7 linked regions of the Homo sapiens genome follow. The protein of the gene in region 5 interacts with the protein of the main gene of each other region in a biochemical or structural test. Each region holds a gene or a part of one and is shown on either strand. Other genes may lie near its edges.

Region 1 (3,500 bases), on a different chromosome or scaffold from region 5:
ATTATCTAGTTCAAGGGTCTGTGAGAAGCTCTCTTTGAGCCTTAAGTACTACAGGATGTTGGGAAAAGATGTTGTGTTCTTTCTTTCCTTTTTTTTTTGAGACAGAGTCTCGCTCTGTCGTCCAGGTTGGAGTGCAGTGGTGCGATCTCGGCTCATTGCAAGCTCCACCTCCCGGCTTTAAGTGATTCTTCTGCCTCAGCCTCCTGAGTAGCTGGGAATACAAGTGTGTGCCACCACACCTGGCTAATTTTTTGTATCTTTAGTAAAGACGGGGTTTCACCGTGTTAGCCAGGATGGTCTCGATCTCCTGACCTCGTGACCTGCCCGCCTCGGCCTCCCAAAGTGCTGGGATTACAGGCATGAGCCACTGCACCCAGCCCGTCGTGTTCTTTCTTGTCGTCATTCTGTTCTGAAGTTGTTTCATTTTATAAGCCTTAAGTTTTGAACAGGGCAGTACTCACTGACACCCTCTTAACAGACTCAGAAAGATGTGTTAATTCATTTTTTAGGGGGAGAGGGGAGATATTTGTGTTCCAGCAGCTTATTTAGGTCACATACCTCCTGATAGGTCTTCCCATTCTTTGAAATCATGACATTGAAACCTCCAAAAGAACTAGATACCACTTTGCTAATGAGTTGAAAGGAGGCTTTGGTCCATCTGGTGCTCAGCACTGTACTTCTCAGCATTTAAACGTGCCTTACAGCCCATTGCCAAACAGTGATGTCATATAATGAGGCTCCCCTTGCTGGGCAGATGGAGCACAGTGTTACTATCACAAGCTCGTGCCCAGCATATTAACTGAGCAGGAACATGCCAGAAATATAAATATTAACAGCTCTGTTTTGTCAGCCACTGACTTTGTTTCACTGCTATTCCCAAAACATGAATTAAAACTTAAATTACCCCTTGATGTTAGTGTATGTATTTATCTGTCAAGATTTTTTTTTTTTAAGAGATGGCATCTCACTCTGTCACCCAGGTTAGAGTACAGTGGCACAGTCACGGTTCATGATAACCTCGAACTCTTGTGTTTAAGTGATCCTTCCTCTTCCCTATCCCAAGTAGCTGAGACAACAGGCACATAATGCCATGCCCAGCTAATAAGATCTTTGAGGAATTTGTTCTTGCCCCTGACCTTATTGGTTATAAGAACATGGTCCTTTTTACCCTAAGGGTAACAGAGACTTGTCGTATAATCTGTGTTCAATTATAAAATCAACAGCTGATAAGGTTTCTTTTTCTAAGAAGAGAAGACCATCAGAAGAATATATATATATATAATCCAGGCATTCACCTAGTACTGTAAAGTGTAAACTTATGAACTTGAATTGACACATGAATATTTACTTTGTTTCTGTATCCCCTTGAAGCCCATATTTCTCCAGTGGATTACTCTGGAATTCAAGCTGTAGGACGGGTGTTTTACAGCCTCCAATATACACAGCAGTAGATCTCTATAGGAAGCTGTCCTCTTCACTACTCACCCCCACACCCTCCACATTTAAGGAGTAATTTGCAAAGTCTCAAAAGCCTTTTTCACCACAGTGATAACTGGTTATATGGCAGTATTTATTCTCCCAAGTGCCACCATGCTGAAACACAAAAATACTCATTTGAAATATAGAGTTAGACAAATTACCATTTTGTAACCCCTTATGAAATAATTGCTTTTGGGAAGGAAACCCAGTGAATGCAGAAAGCCATAAGTGAAAAGAATGGATATTTACTTGGTACCAAAATATCCCGCAGATTACTTGCTTTGGTCAAAGGGGAAACATCTTAACCCAGTGATCAATTTTAGCTCATTAGTAGTGGGACAGATGGCCTTAATGCACTGTCACGTGCACAGCATCACCTGTATTTTTGCTGAAAATGTTTAACCTGATTCTTACCAAAATTTTTGACCTAACTTCCGGTTTTTGGGAAGTACAGGGGATAGTGGAAAGCAGGGTATAGACACATGACAGCAAAAGAAGCAAAATCAGACACATCCCGAGAAACGGTCATTCTCAGGACAATCAGAGGGTCTCTTTAGATCAAAATCAGGAAAGAACAGGGCTTAGAAGTAAGAAGATTATTCTAGACTAAGAGAGACTAAAGAAAACCAGTCAGTTGCAGTGCATGGCCCCTAATTGAATCCTGGTTTCAACAAACTAGTTCTAAAAGACAACGTTGGAATAATTGGAGAAATCTTAACATGAACTGGATTTTAGATGATATTTAGAAATTATTTGTCAGAGATAATAACAGTATTATGATTATATAGGAAGATGTCTTCGTGTTGAAATATTTGGGGAGGGTAAAGTGTCATGTCTATAATTTTATTTTAAAACAGTTCAGAAAAAAATACATATAAATACAGAAATATAAAAATGTTAATTGTTGAATATGCTAGGCATATGAGTGTTCACTTTATCATAGTTTTTACTTTTCTGTTTCTGTATATTTGAAATTTTTCATAGTGAAATTTTTAAAAATAAAATTCCCTTTGATTTTAATACCATGTCTCACCCTCATCACCATGTAAAACCCCCAGTTTATTCACTGTTTGAAGATCTGTTGATGAATATTTGATGTTAGTAAATAAACAGCTTAGGGGGACAAAAAAAAAACAGCCCTGCCTACCTATTGTAGGTTACTTCAGCTGTAGGCTTTGTTTTATACAGTTTGACTACACTGGTAGCAGTTTGACATTGACGGTCCACAAAAGCCTGTTCAAACAGAATCCCAGTCATTTAAAAAAATTCTTCTTTAGTAACATATTCTTTAAAAATACAAAATACAGGAGGAGGGTGAGGGTTGAGAGATAACCTATCGGGTACAATGTTCACTATTTGGTTAATGGGCACGCTAGAAGCCCAGTCCCCATCAGTCCGTGGTGAGACCCATGTAACAAATGTGCACATGTACCCCCAAATCAAAAATAAAATAAAAAAATTTTAAAACATAGAAAATACAGATACACACACACACACACACACACATACACACATAAAGGAGAAGAGGGCTAATATATCCTAGAGTAGGTATTTTGGAGGAGAGTTCTTTGTTTGGATATGAAGGGTCAAAACTATGTTTGCTCAATAAGGCATACTTTTTTGTAACATGTTAAAAACTCTTTTCCTTCCTGTCTATGGTACTGATAGCTGTCGACTTGCTGGAGAAGATGCTTGTATTGGACTCAGATAAGAGAATTACAGCGGCCCAAGCCCTTGCACATGCCTACTTTGCTCAGTACCACGATCCTGATGATGAACCAGTGGCCGATCCTTATGATCAGTCCTTTGAAAGCAGGGACCTCCTTATAGATGAGTGGAAAAGTAAGTCCTAAGGGTAGGATTAACATCTTGAACCACTAACCAAAAGCGGTGGGAAAAATAAAAACTGAATGGTCATAACCAACTTGCTAAAGCTTGTAGATGAGGTCTCTAATGCAGAATGAATATGTTCTCTGGTGGAAACTGTTGTAGACAGTGATACTCTCTGGACCTTTGAGATA
Region 2 (3,500 bases), on a different chromosome or scaffold from region 5:
TATTTTTAGTAGGGACGGGGTTTCACTAAATGAAACCAGGCTGTTTCATTTGGTGAAGGCTGCTTCACCAAATGAACCAGCTGGCCAGGTTCATTTGGTGGCCAGGCTGGTCTTGAACTCCTGACCTCAGGTGATCCGCCCTCCTCGGCCTCCCAGAGTGCTGGGATTACAGGCATGAGCCACCGCGCCCGGCCTAAGAAAGCTGTCTTGAAGAGCAGATACACACAATCACCAGTTTCCTTGGAGATCTCCGAAAACTAAATGCTTAGTACCCTGAGGCTTCAGCTTCCGGTCTATGCAATTTGTGGAAAGAATCCTTAAGAGGCAAAGTAGTTTTAAGATAATGTGAATTAAGAGGAAGAGAACACTGCGGTGGAGAATACAGGGTAACAGTTTTCCAGAAGATGAACAATAATCTTTCCCAAATCAGCTTTTCTCACTTTCTCACTCTAAGGGGAAATAATCCCTCAACGGGGGCGTACTAGCCTGCTTTTCTTCGTGGATTCCACACAACACCTAAGAAATTATCCTCTTTAAATTCAAGAGAGATTTGCTTTCGCTCTGATCCCATATGACAGCATGACCTTCTAACTTCACAGGCAGCACCTCCAGTCGGAGGGTTCCAGTTACAAAGCACACATATGGCCACACTTAAAAAACACGGGAGACCATGGTGCGTATAAGGATGTGCTTTGTGTAGCGTACACAAAATATAAATAAGGAACAGGAGGAGAAACCAAAACCACAACTATTGCCAAGGAAGAAAGGTAAAAGTTGATCATTTAATTTTTCACCCTAAACTTGGGAGACATGAACACATTCCAAATCCCAGAAAGTACAGACTGGCAATAAGAATACCATCAGGGCTGGGCGCGGTGGCTCACGCCTGTAATCCCAGCACTTTGGGAGGCCGAGGCAGGCGGATCACGAGGTCAGGAGTTCGAGACCATCCTGGCTAACAAGGTGAAACCCCGTCTCTACTAAAAATACAAAAAATTAGCTGGGCGTGGTGGTGGGCACCTGTAGTCCCAGCTACTCAGGAGGCTGAGGCAGGAAAATCACTTGAACCCCAGAGGTGGAGGTTGCAGTGAGCCAAGATTGCACCACTGCACTCCAGCCTGGGCAACAGAACAAGACTCCGTCTCAAAAAAAAAAAAAAGAATATCATCAGCCATCACAGCAGTTAATGTGCGCCGCCTGCAGGCAATGGGCCAGGTACCGTGCTAACACTTACCATGGGTTATCTTGTTTATGGCTGGAAGGCTGTGGATGGTCAAAGGGTGATTGTTTCTAAACTTACCAATGTGTAATCTAAACGAGTATCTCCTTTTTAAGTTGGTGATCACAGATTTTTCCTCAGGATATCTGTCCGTGTACAGCAGCTTGTCTGCACTCTCAATGCCTGTCAGGGCTAGAAAGTCTTCCACATTTTTCTCTAACTGCTTATTTTCCTTTACAGAAAACTTGCCAAATTTAATAGCGACACCTAGAATTGGGAAGGAACAGGGAGAAAGTGTGTATTGTTAATAATGACAAAAGCAAACCTATGACTTGGTTTTTCATCAGCAATGACAGTACCTCGGCCCAACAGTCCCAACACCTGACATTCGCCCTCCTGCCCGCACTTGCAGATTTGGCCTTTCCTTCAGGGTTCAGCCCAAGCCACACCTCTTCTGTCAATGTCTTCCCGGGTCATCCTATTCCAAAGTGACCTTTCCTGTTTAATCTATCTTTTTAAAAAATAGTTTTCAAATTTATTTATGCATTCTTTAGAGATAGGGTCTTGCTTTTTCACCCAGGCTGGAGTGCAGTGGCATGATCAAAGTCCACTGCAACCTTGAACTCCTGGGCTCAAGTGATTCTCCTGCCTCAGCCTCCCGAGTAGCTGGGACTACAGGTGTGTGTGACACCTGGCTAATTTTTTATTTTTTGTAAGACGGGGTCTTGCTGTTTTGCCCAGACTGGTCTTAAACTCCAGGCCTCAAGCAATTCTCTTGCCTTGGCCTCCCAAAGTGCTGGGATTACAGGTGTGAGCCACCTCACTTGGCCTAGGTTTACTTTAAAAATATCTTATGGGCAAGGCACAGTGGCTTATGCATGTTATCCCAGCACTTTGGGAGGCCGAGACAGGCGAATCATGAGGTCAGGAGTTTGAGACCAGCCTGGTCAATAATATGGTGAAACCCCATCTCAACTAAAAATACAAAAATTAGCTGGGCTTGGTGGCAGGCGCCTGTAGTCCCAGCTACTTGGGAGGCTGAGGTGGGAGAACCACTTGAACCCAGGAGGCGTAGGTTGCAGTGAGCCGAGATCATGCCACTGCACTCCAGCCTGGGCTACAGAGCAAGACTCTGTCTCAAAAAAAAAAAAAAAAGAAAAAAAAAAAAGTCTTTTATGAAATACATACTCATAAAAATTTCAACACAATACACCAAAATGGGATTCTATACCACTCTATAATTGTGTGTACGTGGGTAGTGCTGTCTTTTTTGCTTAATTTGTCTTGTCTATTTTTCTGAATCTCTTCAATCCCATTAATTCTGGAAGGTTATGACTCCTCTTTTTACTTTTTTCAATGACCAGTTGTATTGGGTCTCACACAACAGATACTCAGTAAATATTGCTCATTTGTAGTATACAGCCTTAAATTTGCAGTTTATTCTTAAACCCAATAAGCTTTATTATTGGATTTAAGAATAATAAAGGTTATTTATTATTCTTAATAATAATAATTCTTAATAAGAGAGGTTCAGAAACACAGTGAAATCAAGAAGGTGATCAAGTCTACCACAACTGGCTCACCATCAATTTAATATCTTGGAGAAAGAAACGATACCTCATTAAAGTTGATTTTAATTTGACAGCATTTTAATTTTATATAACTGTTGTATCATTTCCAGTGTCTCAACCAATTAACCTCTCGTCCCTTCTCTTCTTAGTGGGAATTAATTATCTGGTCTCTTTAGCCCCATTCTTCCTGGCCACCTTTACCAGAAACTGGGCAAGAAGAGGAAAAGCAAGTGCACTTTATTTTGCTAATTTTACAGCTTGGACAATTCTGGTAGGAGATAGAGGTGAAGGAGGAGAAAGAATGCTTCTTGTCGATCTATAAATCTGAATCATCCATAAAAGAAAGTTAGGTGCTAGCTCTGCATACAGGAAGTTCAACAAACACTAAGGCCCCACAAGCTCACCTTGTGCTTTAAATTCCTTAAACCGTTCCAAGTCGTCCCGGTACATCCGCTTGATTGTGCTGGTGGCCCTGTCCTTGATGTTAGGAATGAACTCCTGAAGCTGTTTCACGGCAGAACCCAAATCCGCATCTGAATCATCGGCATCTCCTGAATCTGCAGATAAGTATCTTATTTCGGAATCTTCAGCTGTTTCCACATTGTGTTCTTCATTTGCAGGTTCTAACCTAAGGGGTTAGAAAATTGGGTTGACTAACATTAACACATCACTTGACCTCATAACTTTAAAATTTTTCCTTCTTTTTTTTC
Region 3 (3,500 bases), on a different chromosome or scaffold from region 5:
GCAGTTGCCCTTGCGTGCTGTACTCAGACTTGGAGGAAGTGATGTCTTATTCAAGGCCAGTTTTTGTACTAGTGGTTAAATAAATGGTTTCCAAATTGGAGTCAGAAGGAGAGCTTCTAAAATGTAGGTTCCCTGGCCTCAATTGTGAGATTCTGCTTTAGCAGGTCTGGAATTGGAGCACTGGGATCTGCATTTTCAGAAAACCCAAAATGATTATCAGCCAGGACTTAAACCTCTGCTTTAGACCACATTCCCTGTGGGCTTTCAGATTTTCTATCAATGTTCTTCCCTCTTCCCAGCTCCCACACATTAAAACTCAGATCATGCAGAAAAGAAGTTACAGTTCCTTCATTTCACATCAATTTCTCATGCATCCCATCTGGTTTTGGGAAGGTGTGGGACGAGGTGGATGGCCTTAAACTTGCCAATCAAAGATAACGTTCTCTTTCGATTCAAATAGCCTATCTCAGGCTTAAAACCATCTCTTTGGATAAATGCTCAGCTTTTCAAAGGTTCTTCCTAGCTTCTTCCTCATGATGGCATCTAGTGGGTGAGAACAGTCATCTCCAGGTGACACAGGAAAGAGTTTCTCTAATGTATGTGCTGAGGTCCTTGACGGTCCTGCTGCTGGTGCTCATCCTGCCATCTTTGCTGGATGTCACTGAGTCTACTGGGTAATGTAAGTGGGTCCCTGGCTTTTGTTCACTGCTGTCATGCCCTGCTCCTGACCACAACTCTGTCATTGCCTTTGGTCTCAAGGTCTCTACCTTAATAGCTTCCATGTCCCAACTATGGGACTGTTAATCTGCTGGGCTTTGGAGTGGGTGGGAAGGGATGATGTTGGAACTTTGGGATGTACTGAACATCTTGCTCAAGCTTTGGGAAGCCAACATTTTCTCAGACTGACTAGACACCTCCTTCCACCAATGCTGAGCTAGTGCTCCTGTGCCATACTGGGTAAGCCTCTAAGTCATGAGTAGGACTTTTTTGAGTGGCTTGCAGTCTTCCCCAGGCTATGCCAGGAAAGTAGTTGACTAACCCTGCTGCTCCAAGACTCGCATACCCATCCTGAAGTTTCCGTTTATTTCCCAACAGGGCAATTGCAATCTCAATCAATCTCTCCCTGCCCTGGGAGTCATTCCACTCCTGCCTAATGAAGAGACTCTTCTCACATCGTATTCTCAGTTTCTCTTATCCATGGTTAGGAGTAAAACTCATGTTCAGTTGTCCAAGCTTTGCTTTTAGTATGTGAATGGAGCTCTTAGCATGTAGAACTCCCTTCTCATTCTCAGTAAAGTCTGACTTTGAAGACTACTTATCATCTTCCTAGAGATGCCAAAGAATAATCAAGATAATAAAGGCAGGCTCTGAGATTCACAGCTGAGTAGCAACTGTGCTGTTACTCTAGTACACACCCTCTCCTTTCCTGTGACTGTCAGGCTTCAGGGCTTACCTTTATTGGAAAGACAGCAGGGGGGCATATATGAAGAAAATGGAATCTTTAATATTGTCAAAGTCTTGACCCAATAGAGACATTCTTGCCCCAGACTCTCTTGCTTCAGTGCCTTTGCCTGTTCTGGTCCTAAGTACCTTGAATATCCTTCTCTTGATGCCCTGATATAAAACTCTTTATTCCTCAAAGCCAAGTTCAGGTTATCACCTCCACCACAGACTTTTCTTTCCCTCCCCAAACTTCATTGCCTCTTCTCATCACTCCCTTTGTAATTTGTTTATACTGGTAAGAGAGCATTCATCATAATTAGGCCTATCTATGCCTACCTTTCTTGTTAAATTATGAGCTTTGTTCTGCCTTGGATATCTCTCTGGCTTGGATATCTCTCTGGCCTTTGCTCTGCACTTCCAAATGTATCCATTATTCAAGACCCAGGTTTCCAGCCTGATCAACATAGCAAGATCCCATCTCTCCAAAAAAAAAAAAAAAAAAAAATTGTGGGGCCGGGTACAGTGGCTCATGCCTGTAATCCCAGCACTTTGGGAGGCCGAGGCAGGTGGATCATGAGGTCACGAGTTTGAGACCAGTCTGGCCAACATAGTGAAACCCCATCTGTACTAAAAATGCAGAAAATTAGCCGGGTGTGGTGGTGTGTGCCTGTAATCCCAGCTACTCGGGAGGCTGAGGCAGGAGAATCGCATGAACCCGGGAGGCAGAGGTTGCAGTGAGCCGAGATTGCGCCACTGCACTCCAGCCTGGGTGACATTGCAAGACTCCATCTCAAAAAAAAAAAAAAAAAAAATTAGCTGGGCATGGTGGCAGGCACCTGTAGTCCCAGCTACTTGAGAGGCTGAGGTGGGAGGATTGCTTGAGCCCAGGAAGTCGAGGCTTCATGAGCCATGTTTGTGCTACTGCACTCTAGCCTGGATGACAAAGTGAGATCCTTTTCTAAAAATAAGGACCCAGTTTATTTTATTTAGTTATTTAGTTATTTTTGAGACCAAGTTTCATCACTCAGGCTGGAGTGCAATGGCACAGTCTTGACTCACTGCAACCTCTGCCTCCTGGATTCAAGCAATTCTTCTGCCTCAGCCTCTTGAGTAGCTGGGATTGCAGGTGCCCGCCACCACACCTGGCTAATTTTTGTATTTTTGGTAGAGACAGGGTTTCACTATGTTGGCCAGGCTGGTCTCAAACTCCTGACCTCAGGTGATCCACCTGCCTTGGTCTCCCAAACTGCTGGGATTACAGGTGTGAGTCACCCTGCCTGGCCAGAACCCAGTTTAAATTCCATCCTCTCTGCAGAGTCTTCCTTAACCACCCCTATTGAAAGTTACCCCTGCTTCCTACAAGAAGTGGTACTTGGATGTTCATGAGATACCTGTGCAAGGCTCCTGTGGGGGTCCTGGGGAGACAGTGACATGGACACTCATGAAAGGAACCTTGGAATAGCGAGTGTGTGTGCTATAAAATGTGCTTTAGATTTGATTACCACCACTTAAGTTATGAGCTCTGATATGGTTTGGGTCTCCATCCCCACCCAAATCTCATCTTGAATTGTAATCCCTACATGTTGAGGGAAGGAAGTAATTGTATTATGGGGGTGGTTCTCCCATGCTGTTCTCATGATAGTGAATTCTCACAGGATCTGATGGTTTTATAAATGGTAGTTTTTCCTGTACTTTCACACACTCACACTCTCTTCTGCCACCTTGTGAAGAAGGTGCCTGCTTCCCCTTCTGCCATAATTGTAAGTTTCCTGAGGCCTCCCCAGCTGTATTAGTCTGATCTCACGCGGCTAATAAAGAGATACCGGAGACTGGGTAATTTATAAAAGAGGTTTAATTGACTCACAGTTTTACATGGCTGGGGAGGCCTCACAATTATGGCAGAAGGTGAAGGGGGAGCAAGACACATCTTACATGGCATCAGGCGAGAGAGCTTGTGTAGGGGAACTCCCCTTTATAAAACCATCAGATCTCGTGAGACTTATTCACTATTACAAGAGCAGCACGGGAAAGACCCACCCCCATGATTCAGTTACCTC
Region 4 (3,962 bases), on a different chromosome or scaffold from region 5:
ATTACCTTTTCATGTGGGAATCTGAAAATTAATTAAGCTTGATCTCATAACATAAAATATATACATCTCAATATATACATGTCTCAGGTAAATTAAAGAACAAAATGTGGACAAAACATAAACTTAAAAATTCTTAGAAAAATATTCAGAATACATTTCATTAATAGTAGAGTATCTTAAGACAAAAAGCATAAGGATTAATGTCTACAGTTTAATATCTGCAAGTATATAACAAATATTTGTATCCAGAATGTTTTCCAATATAAATTTCTGCAATGATGGAAATATTCTGTTCTATAATGTATAATGTAAAATATATAACATAATAAAATATAATAAAATATTAAAGTCATATGAGGCTATTGAGCACTAAAAATGTGGCCTGAAAGAACTGAGGAACAGAAATTATTGAGGTAAATACAATATGTTAGCATTTTAAAACGCTGAAAGTCTGTAAAGTTCTGTGATTTTTATATACTTTTTAGTATTTCGTTTTTCATAACAAAATTTGATTTTAGCTAAAATTACTATATAAAATATTCCAGTTGTGTACAAAACATGTAAATGTGACTTTTGGGAAAGCAAACACACCAAATGATGTTTTCTCCTAAATGCTTTTTGAAATATTATAAATTAAGTTATAAGAATACATAAAGAATAATTTAATGAATACTGGTATGTCCACCATGGAATTTATGAAATAAAACATTACTGATAAATTCCCTAGGTACTCCTCCCTGAGCAAGATTTTTTTTTTCTAAAAAGAAGCCAGGAAATAAGAATAACAGACGGAGAGCCCTAGACTCAGGCTTCTTCAGTTTGCAACACCCATATTTTAACATATTTGGGGGGAAATGTAACATTCAAACCCAGTGTGTATCATTTAACAAAGAGTTACAAAGCAAACACCCATGTAACCATTGCACAGGTCAGGCGATAAAGCATTTCCAGCATCTCTGAGCCCCTGACCCTCTCCTCCCCACTAGGAGATGACCATTAGCTTGACTTTTTTTCTTTACTACTTTTAATGCCTATACATGCATCCCTAAACAACAGCTTTGCTCCACCAGGTTCTGAATTTTACATAGAAGATATCACACAGCATTCTCCGGCAACTTTTTTTTTTTTTGGTTCAACACTGAAAGGCATTTGTGTTGAAACACAAAAATACTTCATTGGCCACTGTACAGTGTGCCCTTTTTATGAGTGGTGTATAATTTATCTTTCTCCTTCAGGTAGGCATGAAGGCGGCATCCAGTTTTCTGCCATTACAGTCAACCTTCTTGTACACGTCTGCTTGTGGACATGTATTAAAATTTATCTAGGGCAGTGGCTTTCAAACTTTTTTGTCCATGACTCATACTAAGGAATGACGTTTTACATCATGACACACATTTGTGTATGTATGAAACTGAGGAGGGGGAGAGAGATTCATAAAGCGAACACCCCTATGACCTGAGAGACACTGATGTTCTATTCTCCGTCTGTGTTTTACAAATTCTGATCATCCATTTAAATGACTTTACGACCCACTAAAATGGACTTCAAATTCTGAAAAACATTGTTCTTAAGGATGAATACCCAGGCGTGCAACTGCTGGATCAGGAAACACGGACATCGGACGTCGTCAACTTTTCCAGATCCTTAACTGTTAAATGTTCTTATCTAAGCGCATATAAATTTACCACTATTTAACTTCAGAGCGAAAAGCGTGAAACATCAGAGAACATTTTATCTTTTCCCTCGGTCATTAAACAGTATTAATCACTTACCATGTGCTAAGTAAGCAATCTCTGAGCCCAGCGAGACCGGTGGGTTAATACGCGGAGGGGCTGCGGGGGAGGACTTAGGGGACCAGGACCTCAGTGAGGCCCCAGAAAGCACCCGGGAGGGGCCTCCGATCCTGCCTGGGAGGGAGGGGTTAGAGGAGGATTCCTGGAAGAAGGAGGACCTAAGCTGGGTGTTTCTATTTTTGATTTTTATTGGTTTCCTAAAACATGAAAGTAACACATTTGATGAGAAAAAATATTCAAAATTACAGGAGTATATTCAGTAAAAGGTAGAAATCCCCATTCCGCCCTGAAAGTTGGATGCGGAGACTAACAGAAGTCGCATTATCAGCTGTCCCGATCTAGGAAATTTTTAGGACCCCACGTTTTTAAATACTTTTAAGAGTATGTCTGATACAGTCTGTAATACTAAAGCATCAAAATAATCATATTTTCCATAAGAGACGAAAGTGCAAACAGTTACTGTCTAGTCCCATTATTACTTGGAACAGACTTTTTCTTCTTTTCCTTGTTCTGTTTTTTTCCTGGCCCGTTGGCGAGGTTAGAGCGCCAGGTTGTAAGAATCGGGTCTGTGGACCTCATACCAGATAGGCGCGAACGCCTCTGGCAGCGGCGTCCAGGGGGTCCGGCGGCACTCGCGGTGGGGCTGCCTGGGTTGCGGGTGACGATCTGCGGGGTCCCGCACCCGGCCCCGCGGAGCCCGGACCCGCACGTAGGCGGCGCGGCAAAGGCACACCCTCCTCGCGGCCGCGAACCCAGCGCCGTCCTCGCAGCGCGGCAATGCACGGCCACCGCTGCCCCCAGCCCGCCCGCCGCAGCCGCGAGCACCCAAACACCTACCCTGCGGGGCGACGACCCCCGGAGCTCAGGCGAGGCCGCTCGGGCGTGCCACCTCCGCGGCCATGACGGCGACCCGGGGAAGCGCCCCGCGCGCCAAGGCCCCGCGCTGCTGAGCTGTGAGCACGGCTGCCCCGTCCGTCCGTCCGTCCAGCACCCGCCCGGAGAGTGAGGCCAGAGCACGCCCCAGCCGTGTCTAAATCAAGGCTCGGGGCGGTACCGACGGGCTGAATGACAAATGGCAGATGCCGTGGGCTTTGCCGCCCGCGGCAGCCAAGAGGATGGCTGCGCCGAGGAGGCCGCGCGCAGGCGGGGCTCGGGAGCCGGAACGGCGCGGCCGCGAGGAGGGCGCTGGGGCCCCTGGCGGGGGCGTCACGTGGCAGGAGGAGGCCCCGCCGGGGAGCTGGGGGTCGGCGGCCGAGGCGGGGGGAGCTGAGCGGCACCCACACGTCCTGCGGGCCGGGTCACCGGTGGGGGCAAAGCCAAGGTCGCCCAGGTACAGCGCTGGCGCAGGTAGACCCGAGCCGGCCTGGGGTCTGCAGCGGGGCCTGCTAGCCGAAGTCTCCGCCAGGATGGGCCGCCAGAGCCCAATCACACATGAGAAACGCGACAGATGCTGGGACGCTGCAATAGGCCAAACTAACTTACCTCCTGTGCCAGCAGCGCCCAAGTGCAGCTGCCCAAACGTGAGCACTGACCGTGAGCCAGGCACTGTCCTAAGCACTTTGCAGGTAAATACGTGTAATCCTCACAGCAACACTGGGAGAAATACCCGTCTCACAGCTGAAGAAACGAAGACGCAGAAAGGGTAGACAGAAGTAATTTTCTAATTACGGTATCACACTACGTCTGCTTCATATAATTTCAAATTTTTCATGTTACTGGAATTTAAGAAAAATAAACTGAAGGGAATCTCTATTGCTTTCTTCCCTAAAAGACGTGCTTTTTAAAAGGCCTATAAGCATTACGTAAAAAGATTAAGAGAGGTGTAAGGAGCTCACTACATGTTCGGGTTTAGAAAGTCTCATAGCTCTGAAAGATGAGGTTAATTAGCATCATACACCTCCACCTACCTTTAGGGGGTAACCCTGCCTCTCAATTTCCATTAGTTCTGTTACTTTCGGCTTCCTAGCAATGAGAACATTTGCAATTGCTCTGCAACTTTATTTTTCCAGATGTTGTCTTAATTCTATCTTTAAATGAATTTGATATTCACTGTAACTTATCTATCCCTGAATTTTTATTTTTATTTAGTTCTTGATGGACTTCCTTCATTTTCAAGTCATATTCCTAAGGAGGGTTTATAGAGTGCTGCCATGTTTGAGAAGATCTGGT
Region 5 (3,230 bases):
ATTTAAAGCAAGTAGCTATATTGGGAAATATTCTTTGCAATAGTCTCACAAGGCTTACTTGCTTTAGAAAATAGATTATTAAATGAAGTTTGTTATTCTTATTTCATTGATGGAGCTTGAAGCAAATTCATTTGAATCATTTTACATGCAAGGGCACTGGTGTGTTCACAGATGTATTTATTATCAGTTTCTCTATATGACACCAAAACAACTGTGAGTTTAGTGAAACAAATGCAGTCTGATTGTTTTAAGTAATTAAATGATTGAATACAAACGTTCCACCTGCTCTACTCCATATAGATAGAGCCTCTTCTGTATAATTCTGACTGAATAGCTAACAGTAGTCAGTTCATCATACTTATTGTTGCTAATCTACTTAGCTTCCTTGTGCTGAATAGGGGATTGAACCAGATGACTAATAATGGTCCCTTTAATGCTAAAATGGCTGTGATTTTACATTTTTAAAAAACCCACAAAAGAATGAACTTAAGATTTAAGAACTGTTTTCCTTGGTCATAAGAATTTCTCTTAAATAAAAGCATTGGGATGATAAAAATGTAATCAAACCAACAACATAGATTCCTTTCCCAGTCCCAGTTTTGTCAGCTGGTGTTTAAAGGGAGTCAAAGATTGCTAATATTTTTTTTTCCTGTGCAGATCTGAAAACCATGAGTGAACGCCTCAAGAATAGGTACTACGTGTCTAAGAAATTATTCATGGCAGACTTACAGCGAGTCTTTACCAATTGCAAAGAGTACAACCCCCCTGAGAGTGAATACTACAAATGTGCCAATATCCTGGAGAAATTCTTCTTCAGTAAAATTAAGGAAGCTGGATTAATTGACAAGTGATTTTTTTTCCCCTCTGCTTCTTAGAAACTCACCAAGCAGTGTGCCTAAAGCAAGGTGGTTTAGTTTTTTACAAAGAATTGGACATGATGTATTGAAGAGACTTGTAAATGTAATAATTAGCACTTTTGAAAAAACAAAAAACCTCCTTTTAGCTTTTCAGATATGTATTTAAATTGAAGTCATAGGACATTTTTATTTTATGGAATAGATTTTAATCTATTTACTACTATTAAGGTAAATTTTCTATGGCATGTCCATTAGCTATTTCATGATAGATGATTAGGGGTTTCCTCAAAACCTGTGTGTGAGGAAATTGCACACAGTAGCAAAATTTGGGGAAATCCATAACATTTTCAGACCATGAATGAATGTTTCCATTTTTTTCTAATGGAATGTGAGAGTTTACTTTTATTTTATTCTGAAGGACTTTAAGGAAGGGATACATGATTTTAAAAAAGCCTGTAAGAGGTGAAATATGTGATGTTTGAAGTCTCTTTATAGACTTTTTATATATATTTTTTAAAACACTCATCTAGATGAGGTGCTTTGAGCAGTTCTGAAAAATGCAGTTCCAGGAAAGCAACTGCTTTGGTTCCTAAGGAAGAAATTCTAAATAATGCAAACTTTTAAAATAAGCATCTAGGTTTTTGATAATTCTGTCTACTTACAACAAACTTGTTAGTACATAACCACTATTTTAATAATTATTTTCTCTACACAAATGTGTAATATCATATTTGACTTTGCTTATGCAGGCCATAAGTTCCAAAAGATAATTTCCCTGCCCACAAAGGCATAAACTTGAAAACACATGAGATTGAATCAACATGCTTTAATAGGAAAAGATGTATGGTCTATATATGTATCAATCTGGTGAATCCTCGTTCTAATAAAGGTTCTTTTTCTTTTCTATGATACACACAGCCACGCTGATAATATGCAAATGAACATTTTCCTTTATGTCTCTCCAGATAATGTTTATTGTCTGAGGTAAATTAAATTCCCACCAGGGTTTGCTGTCAGTATTTTAACACCCACATTAGTATATGCGTCCAGGGTCATAACCCCCTAAAATCCATCATGCAACCTTATTAATCTGTCTTGGGATTCCAGTTTAGTGCTTGGATTTATTTCCTGATTACACTACATAGAAAAGTGAGACATCTGCCATTCCCAACTCTGGGAAAACCAACTAATATACAACCATATAAATGAAGGCCATCTTGATGGTCTCAACACTAATTTTTATGATGCAAATTTATACACTGATTTTTGTAAAGGACAAAGTTTTAAAAGCGTATTTAACTTGATGTTTTCTATCAGCATAAATAAAATGGTCATGAATAGTCATTAAAAACAGTTGCCAGTGATAATCTGCATGAAGGAAAAAGAACCCTGCAAATGGCTATTGAGTTGGAAGTATTGTTTTTGATATGTAAGAGATATTCAGAATGCTCACACTGAAAATGCCTCAACTTTTTAAAGTGTAAGAAACCACCATGAGTGGTGTCTAGATTTCTAATGAAGAATCATGATACAGTTTGGATTAAGTATCTTGGACTGGTTTTAAACAGTGCTTTGTACCGGATCTGCTGAAGCATCTGTCCAGCTGGTATCCTGTGAAAGTTTGTTATTTTCTGAGTAGACATTCTTATAGAGTATTGTCTTTAAAATCAGATTGTCTCTTCTATATTGAAAGCATTTTTATGTTTTCTAATTTAAAAATTAATATTTTCTTATAGATATTGTGCAATAAAGCTGAAGTAGAATGTGTGGTTTTTGCAAATGCTTTAACAGCTGATAAAAATTTTACATTTGTAAAATTAATATATTGTACTGGTACAAAATAGTTTTAAATTATATTTTAAAAAGCTTCCAATCTTGTGGTGTGTTTTATTCATTCAGTAGGCTGAGGTTAACAGAACAAATTATGATCTGGTTGATAACCATCAATTGAATCCTTAAACCTTAGATCTTAAGCATTCTGTTGCATTTGGGGGAGGTTTCATAAAAAATCCATAGGTCATCAGTAAGAGATTTTCAGGAGAGACACTTACTCTGTCTTTTGAGTTATCCACTGCATCTTACCCACTCACCCGCTAAACAATAACAAAAAAGATTCATTGAAAGAAGAGTGTTGTTGGTTTAGAAATTAAAAGATTTTTGTTTTTATACTTTGCATCTGTGAAATATATATGATGAGAGAAAAATACAGCCGATTTTTAAACATCTCCCATATGAGCTTCTAATGTGATTCAAAATGATGTCTGTAGGAAAGAATACTATATCCTTTTGGGGTTTGAGAGGACCCAACCAAGAGAACCCCTCTTCCCTACTGAAATCTAAACCAACTGAGAAGTTAAAAAAAAAAAAAAAAGG
Region 6 (3,500 bases), on a different chromosome or scaffold from region 5:
GCAAGAAAGAGCGGAGTTGACAAAGAATGGCTGCAGATGAGAAGCAGGTGTGTGAGGTTCCTTCTGATGATGGATTCTAAGTATTTTTATCCCAAAGGCAAGACTAATTTAGTTCAGCAAAATACCTTAATTTAGGATTTTGTGTGATAAAAGCCTGTCCTGTTTTCATTAAATGACGATTTTTGAGAATTAACTACTTGCTGTGTGATTTTCATAAATAATTTCATTTGGGCATACTTAACACTGTTGCTATCTGCTGAAGGCATTTGATACTCGCACACCTAATGCCATCAAAGGAGAGATGAGTATACACTTTAATTTGTTCTTATTGAGTGTACATTTTAATTGTTCTTATGAATGTCAGATTTTGGGAAGATCCAAAGAAGTACTCTGTAGACAGAATACGCTGTCCTGGCCCCCTAAGCTTAGAATCCTACCAATTTTCCCATTTCATGAGATTGACCTTTCAGATGAGGAGGGACTGCATACAAATTGCTTTATTTCAAGTAATATCTACCATGTTATTTTTGAAAGAATTCTTTTGTCCTTTTTACCCTAGATCTATTGGAAAAGATGAGAAAAATTACAGTGGTGATAAGAGTGTCTTAACACCTAGATATGATGGGTGTGTCGGGTGAAAGGATAGCAATGGGAGGCTGGTGGAAAGTGAGAGTTGGGGGATGGGGTGATGAGAAGGAAAATAGGTGACTAGTGACTCCTGGATTCTTGAATGGGAGAGAGTGAAGAGACAATCAGGCAGGGAGATTTTCTGTCTTTGCATAAATGTCACTGAAAGAGTTTTAGAGATCGGAGGGGTGAGGTGAAGTTGGTTAGGCAATTAGTGATAACTCAAGGACCAGTTGAAAGACTGGAGGACCCTCCACTGCTGACTGTGGGATCAGATCCTTTTATCCTGGGGATGAGAAAGGCTGATGGGAAAACTGCTAGGCAGCTGCTGACATTATACCACCAGGAAACATGAAGTTGTGAGTAGTTGTCACTTGGACATGGCTGAAGTCACCTTAGGGTACAGTGATGTTGCTGCATCACAACGTTTAGGTCATCAATGGGCCATACACATGACTGTGGCCCCATAAGATGATAATATCATACTTTTACCTTTTGCTATGTTTAGATACACAGATACTTGCCATTGTGCTACAGTGGCCTACGGTCCTCAGTACAGTAACCTGCAGTACATGTTTGCAGCCTGGAAGCCATAGGCCATACCATAAACCTGGGTGTGTAGGAGGTTATACCATGTAGGTTTGTGTAAGTACACTCTGTGATGTTCACACAATGACAAAATTGCTTAATGGTGCATTTCTCAGAATGTATAAGTGTGCTGATGTTGATGCATTGTTTGGGGATGGGGAAACTGATACTCACTATGTGAGGCCCCAAACTCAATCTAAAATTGCCTTTGGAGGCAACCACGGAAATACGGTAATAGCTCTCTTAGGCCTTCTCCCCCCGTACTGATCTTCCTTGGTACTGTTTTATTTTATTTTTAAACTCTTGAAATAATACATAATAGATGTATGTATTTTCAGGGCACATGTAATAATTTAATGCATTCATATTTGTAATTTGTAATGATAAATCAATGTAATTGTGCTATTGAGATTGTGGGAGGTAAATATGGAATCAGGGAAATAGAATGGGCTGATAATGTGTTTTCCTAAAGAACAGATGGGATTGGCCGTGCGCGGTGGCTCACGCCTGTAATCCCAGCACTTTGGGAGGCCGAGGCGGGCGGATTTCCTGAGGTCAGGAGTTCAAGATCAGCCTGGCCAACATGGTGAAACCCCGTCTCTACTAAAAATACAAAAATTAGCTGGGCATGGTGGCGGGCACCTGTAGTCCCAGCTACTCGGGAGGCTGAGGCAGGAGAATCGCTTGAACCCAGGCGGCGGAGGTTGCAGTGAGCCGAGATCGCACCAGCTTGGGTGACAAGCGTGAGACTTCATCTCAAAAAAAAAACAAAAAACAAAAAACAACCAGATGGGACAAGTTAAAACTGAACTATGAATTCCATAAGTGGGTAGTGTGGGTCACTGAGTGGGGCACTGAGTACTCCACAGTGACTGTAGTCAGGATTCTACATTGAAATAAACTTTCTGGAATTTACCTTGGTGCTATATACTTAAAGTCTTAAAAATGTTAAGCTCTCTGTTCCAGAAATTCTGCTTCTTGGAACCTACTTACGTGAAGTAACCAGAGATGGGAACAAAGATGTATGTACACGGATGTTTATTGAATTAGCTTTTGTTATGTAAAAACTTGGAAACAAGCTAAATATCCAACAATAGAGACACATTTGAACGAATTACGGCACATCCAGACAGACTATAGGTAGCTTATAAAGCTCGTGTTTTCGAGCAGCGTTTAGTGATGGGAAAATATTTATGATCTATGCTGATTGGGTGGGGAAAAAAGGATATGAAATTGTGCTTCTAGTTTTATTTTTAAAACATATGTGTATATTGGGGTATTTTTAAAAACCTGGAAGAAAACATATCTTTTTGATGGTGAAATTGTGGGTGTTTGGCTTTTTTTTTCCTTCTTGAAACATTTTTGTATTTTCCAAATTTAAAACAGCAAGCACAATTACCAATTACCCTTTTAACCAGAAAAATATTCTCAAGAGAGTGCTAATATGTCATCTCTGCCCTCACCTCTGGTCCACGTAAGGTTAGGAAAAACACACTGGGTGCTGCCGAGGAGGAGGCTGTGCATGGACGGGGCCATTCTCGAGCCTTTCTGCCTCCATGTGTGGAGCAGGCTCTAGAGCCAGGGCTTTCCTGGCCAGGCTCTTGGAAGCCTTTGTCCTCAGACAGCTGTGGCTACTTGGAGACACTTAGATTGGTGGCTTTTTGGTGAGGTTGGGACATAATGTTTTGTCAGTAACTGTGAAGGGCTTGAGATATGATTTCACTTCACAGTTAACATTCTTTATACATATGAATACTGCAGAAACACAAAACCCCTGGGTAGGAGAAAAGAGTTCCTTGTTGATATTTACAACTGGGGCAACAGCCTGAGTGACACTATTGTGTCAGGCCCCTAAACCTTGACCCTTAGGTGACACTGAAAACTAATGGAATGTACATGTGGGCTACACTTTGTTGACAGGGACAGAGCAGCTGTCCCTCTCCCGTCCCAAAAGGAGAGAGAGAGAAAAAAAAAAGAAGAAGAAAAAGGAAAACCAAACAGACAAACACCTTAGCTCCCCTGACATGGGATGAAAAGGTTCCAGGGGTCTTATCCTAACCTTTCAGAATGTGAGACACTTGTAACCTGGGGATGTCTCCAAGGTCTGTTTTTCATGCTTTTTGAAATACACATGCCTAGGGAGATACGTCTTCCCAGCACCTTGGGAACCAAGGTGAAATTATTTGGTCCTCTTGAGGAGATTAGAGGTTTTATTATCCTTTTGGAAAAGAGCATTTAATGTACACAAATGGCTACAGATCTAATTCTCATGGTAAGTGAAGTAT
Region 7 (3,963 bases), on a different chromosome or scaffold from region 5:
CTCTAGGAGGCCAAGGCAGGCGGATTACCTGAGGTCAGGAATTTGAGACCAGCCTGGCCAACATGGTGAAACCCCATCTCTACTAAAAATAGAAAAATTAGCTGGGTATGATGGTACACGCCTGTAATCCCAGCTCAGGAGGCTGAGGCAGGAGAATCGCTTGAACCCAGGGGCAGAGGTTGCAGTGAGCTGAGATCACGCCACTGCACTCCAGCCTGGGTGACAGAGCGAGACACTATCTCAAAAAAAAAAAAAAAAAAAAAATGGGGGCAACCAGAGCTCCTCAGACCATCCATCTGTTTGTTAACTGCTGCATCCTCTGTCACTGCATTGTATTTCTCCATAATTCTGCTGCTGTCAGCCACCATCATTTTCAGGGATGGGTTTATCCTCTAACACAGGGTTTCTCAACCTCGGCACTACTGACACCTGGGACCAGGTCATTCTTTGTTGTGGGAGGCTGCCCTGCGCATCGTGGGATGTTCAGCAGCATCCCTGGTCTCCACCCACCGGGTGCCAGTAACACTCCCCTCTTGCCTTGACAATCAAAAATGTGTCCATGCCAGGCGCAGTGGATCACACCTGTAATCCCAGCACTTTGGGAGGTTGAGGCAGGCGAATCACCTGAGGTCAGGAGTTCGAGACCAGCCTGACCAACATGGTGAAACCCTGCCTCCACTAAAAAGTACAAAAACTAGGCCAGGCACGGTGGTTCATGGCTGTAATCCCAGCACTTTGGGAGGCCAAGGTGAGCGGATAGCCTGAGGTCAGGAGTTCAAGACCAGCCTGACCAACATGACAAAAACCCATCTCTACTAAAAATACAAAAAAAAAAAATTAGCCAGGAGTGGTGGTTCACGCCTGTAATCCCAGCTACTCAGGAGGCTGAGGCAGGAGAATCACTTCACCCTGGGAGGTGGAGGTTGCCAGTGAGCCGAGATCGCACCACTGCACTCCAGCCTGAGTGACAGAGTGAGACTCCGTCTCAAAATAAGTAGGTAAACAAATAGAAATACAAAGATTAGCCAGGTGTGGTGGCACAAGCCTGTAGTCCCAACTACTCAGGAGGCTGAGGTAAGAGAATTACCTGAACCCGGGAGGCAGAGGTTGCAGTGAGCAGAGAGTGCACTACTGCACTCCAGTCTGGGGAACAAAGCAAGACTCCATCCAAAAAAAAAAAAAAGCTAGGGACGGTGGCTCATGCCTGTAATCCCAGCTCCCAGCACGTTGGAGGCCAAGGCGGGCAGATCACCTGAGATTAGGAGTTAGAGACCAGCCAGGCGAAACCCCACCTCTACAAAAAAGTACAAAAATTAGCTGGGTGTGGTGGCAAGCGCCTGTAATCCCAGCTACTCCGGAGTCTAAGGCACGAGAATCGCTTGAACCTGGGAGACAGAGGTGGCAGTGAGCCAAAATCGCGTCACTGCACTCCAGCCTGGGTGACAGAGCAAGACTCCGTCTTAAAAAAAAATAAAATAAAATAGTGTCCAGACACTGTTGTCAAATGTCTGCTGGGAGTCAAAATTGCCCCCATTGAGAATTACTGCAAGACAATACACATCACAACAGACAATAAACCAGCAAACGCCAAAGTCAGGGATCCTCCTCCACTGTGTTCCCTGCTGTCTTCCCAAAGCCTGGTACAGCATGTTGGGAATGGCAGCCACACAGTATTCGTTGGCTGAACGAGTGACTCACCTTCCTTAGGACTTTCATGGCATATATTTTGCCCAAGTTGGTGCCTTGCACCTTTCGCACCTGGAACACCTGTAGGGCAGGGGAGACAGGATCAACTTCCCTCTCCACATCCTATCTTCAAGAAGCCCCACCCTGAAGCTCTGGCTTTGGGATCAGGAGGCCTAGGCCCTGCCAAGGGTGGGGCAGTGAAGATTTCAAGTCCGATTGGAGAGGATTTGGCCTTCCCTCCTTTATGTTTCTGGCTCTGAATCCCATTAGAGGCCCTGCTGATTCACAAGTCTAATTTGTTTTGAGAACCCTTTGCTGCCTCCAGATGGAGGCTGTGAGGCCAGGAGGAGGGTGCGCCCGCCCCTACCTTGCCATAGCCCCCCTTGCCCAGCACACGCAGCAGCTCAAAGCAGTGGGGCCCGATGCGCTCTGGGCCAACGTTCACGCTGGTCTCAGTCAGCTCCACCTCTTCATAGTGTCCCACAGGCCTACGGACACAAGGAGTTAATGAGGACAAGGCTCCAGTGCTCCCCAGTTCCCCTTCCCCACTCCATTCCCCCCTCCCCCAACACGACCCTCACTCACTCTAGGCCAGCTGCCCTCAACTCGGCAAGGGGACATGCGTCCTGTGAGAAACCGAGGGGTAAGAGCCAAGGAAGGTGCCAGGATACCTCCCCGCTCCCGTTCAGGTTGGACTGCGTGGCCCAGGAGAGAAGGGTGTCAGGGATGGCAGCTAGTAGGGGATGGGTAAGAATTGGGAAGAAACCGAAGGCAGGAAAGGGAGAATCGGGAGAAAAGGCTGGGGTTCTGGAAGAGAGGTCGGGGTGAGGGTGGGATCAGAACTTAATAGAGACCGGGATCTGAGAAGGATCTGGGTCTGCAAAGAGTCGGAGCCCGCTCTGGGCGTGCGGAGCCGCCGCTCCGGCCTCGGCTGGGTGACAGGATCGGCTCCAGGATCCAGTCGCGCCAGGGCAGGGCACTCACCGCGGGGCTGAGCTCTGGCTCGCCCTCGCCCTCGCTGCCTTCCTCCGTCTCCAAATCCAAATCAAACACGGCCGCCATGGCGGCGCCGGCCCCGCGGGCCCGTCGGCCCGTACCTGGCCGCGCACTGACTGACAGTCCCGGACCTAAACATCATCTCTCCGCGACGGCAGCTGCGCGCGCCGGTGACGCAAGGGATCTTACTCCCCCTCCGGAAAATCGCTTAGCCTGGTGGGGAACAAAGATGGCTTCCGTCGCAAGGCCTCTCGGGAATTGTAGTCCTAGAGTGGCGAGGCGCCTAGCCTTCAGCCTGCAGAATCCTTTCCGCAGGACCCTCGGTCTTCCCAGCAAGGCTTTCTGGGAGCCCGTTTTGGTTCTACGGTGTTTTGAGTTTGGATGGAGCAGGGTCGGAAGTGTATGCAGGTGTGAATGTAAATGCAATCCCCAGCCCTGTTGGAGACGGGTACTGCCAGGCCGGCTGCGTGATGAAAGGCAGGTCGCGTTGCTTTCGGTTCACTCCAGAAAGGGAGGCGGCTGCATCAGGGTCTCCTCAAAGTGCCTCTGGCTCGAGGACCCTGCAAATCGGAGCATTTACTGAGTGGCCAGCTCACTGCCAGGCTATGTTGCCAGGTTCCCGCCTTAAATAGGGTTTTGGGGGTCAGTGATAGACCTGTAAATATGGGATTTTGTTGGCGTTTACTCCCTTCTTAATTTAAGCACATTTAGGCACCTGGTACAGAATAGACACTTCAAAAAACGTTGTTGAGGCCGGACACGATGCCTCACGCCTGTAATCGTAGCACTTTGGGAAGCCAAGTTGGGAGGATCACTTGAGGCCAGGAGTTCAAGGTTACAGTGAGCTATGATGGTGCCACTGCACTCCAGGCTGGGTGACACAGTGAGATCCTGTCTCAAAAAAACAAACAGGCCGGAGGCGGTGGCTCACACCTGTAATCTCAACACTTTCGGAGGCCGAGGTGGGTGGATCACTTGAGGTCAGAAGTTGGAGACCAGCCTGGCCAACATGATGAAACTCTGCCTCTACTATAAATACAAAAAATTAGACGGGTGTGGTGGCGCGCACCTGTACTCCCAGATACTCGGGAGGTTGAGGCAGGAGAATCGCTTGAACTCGGGCGATAGAGGTTGCAGTGAGCCAAGATTGCACCACTGCGCTCCAGGCTGGGCGGCAGAGTGAGACCAAGTCTCAAACAGATAAAACCCGAAAACCTGGCTGGTCACGGTGGCTCACACCTGTAATCCCAGCACTTTGGGAGGCCGAGCCAGGCGGATCAC

The links.
Region 1: the proteins of KAT2B (region 5) and MAPK14 form a complex in vitro, tested with the Homo sapiens proteins (one study listed by BioGRID).
Region 2: the proteins of KAT2B (region 5) and TTF1 form a complex in vitro, tested with the Homo sapiens proteins (one study listed by BioGRID).
Region 3: the proteins of KAT2B (region 5) and SMAD2 form a complex in vitro, tested with the Homo sapiens proteins (one study listed by BioGRID).
Region 4: the proteins of KAT2B (region 5) and PLAGL1 form a complex in vitro, tested with the Homo sapiens proteins (one study listed by BioGRID).
Region 6: the proteins of KAT2B (region 5) and IRF2 form a complex in vitro, tested with the Homo sapiens proteins (2 studies listed by BioGRID, with this or other methods).
Region 7: of the proteins of KAT2B (region 5) and RPS6KB2, one has a biochemical effect on the other in vitro, tested with the Homo sapiens proteins (one study listed by BioGRID).

Annotation. Positions count from the first base shown.
Region 1 is NC_000006.12:36,104,308-36,107,807, forward strand, and holds part of MAPK14 (mitogen-activated protein kinase 14), read left to right. Parts: intron 1-3,147; coding exon 3,148-3,321; intron 3,322-3,500. UniProt on the Homo sapiens protein: Serine/threonine kinase which acts as an essential component of the MAP kinase signal transduction pathway.
Region 2 is NC_000009.12:132,396,841-132,400,340, forward strand, and holds part of TTF1 (transcription termination factor 1), read right to left. Parts: intron 3,419-3,500; coding exon 3,195-3,418; intron 1,487-3,194; coding exon 1,301-1,486; intron 1-1,300. UniProt on the Homo sapiens protein: Multifunctional nucleolar protein that terminates ribosomal gene transcription, mediates replication fork arrest and regulates RNA polymerase I transcription on chromatin.
Region 3 is NC_000018.10:47,812,160-47,815,659, reverse strand, and holds part of SMAD2 (mothers against decapentaplegic homolog 2), read left to right. Parts: 3' UTR 1-3,500. UniProt on the Homo sapiens protein: Receptor-regulated SMAD (R-SMAD) that is an intracellular signal transducer and transcriptional modulator activated by TGF-beta (transforming growth factor) and activin type 1 receptor kinases.
Region 4 is NC_000006.12:144,005,460-144,009,421, forward strand, and holds the start of PLAGL1 (zinc finger protein PLAGL1), read right to left. Parts: upstream 2,801-3,962; 5' UTR 2,631-2,800; exon of another isoform or gene 1-2,630.
Region 5 is NC_000003.12:20,151,675-20,154,904, forward strand, and holds the end of KAT2B (histone acetyltransferase KAT2B), read left to right. Parts: intron 1-657; coding exon 658-851; 3' UTR 852-2,730; downstream 2,731-3,230. UniProt on the Homo sapiens protein: Functions as a histone acetyltransferase (HAT) to promote transcriptional activation. Has significant histone acetyltransferase activity with core histones (H3 and H4), and also with nucleosome core particles.
Region 6 is NC_000004.12:184,464,551-184,468,050, reverse strand, and holds part of IRF2 (interferon regulatory factor 2), read left to right. Parts: intron 1-3,500. UniProt on the Homo sapiens protein: Specifically binds to the upstream regulatory region of type I IFN and IFN-inducible MHC class I genes (the interferon consensus sequence (ICS)) and represses those genes. Also acts as an activator for several genes including H4 and IL7.
Region 7 is NC_000011.10:67,427,331-67,431,293, reverse strand, and holds the start of RPS6KB2 (ribosomal protein S6 kinase beta-2), read right to left. Parts: upstream 2,801-3,963; 5' UTR 2,749-2,800; coding exon 2,671-2,748; intron 2,313-2,670; coding exon 2,272-2,312; intron 2,175-2,271; coding exon 2,054-2,174; intron 1,768-2,053; coding exon 1,699-1,767; intron 1-1,698. UniProt on the Homo sapiens protein: Phosphorylates specifically ribosomal protein S6. Seems to act downstream of mTOR signaling in response to growth factors and nutrients to promote cell proliferation, cell growth and cell cycle progression in an alternative pathway regulated by MEAK7.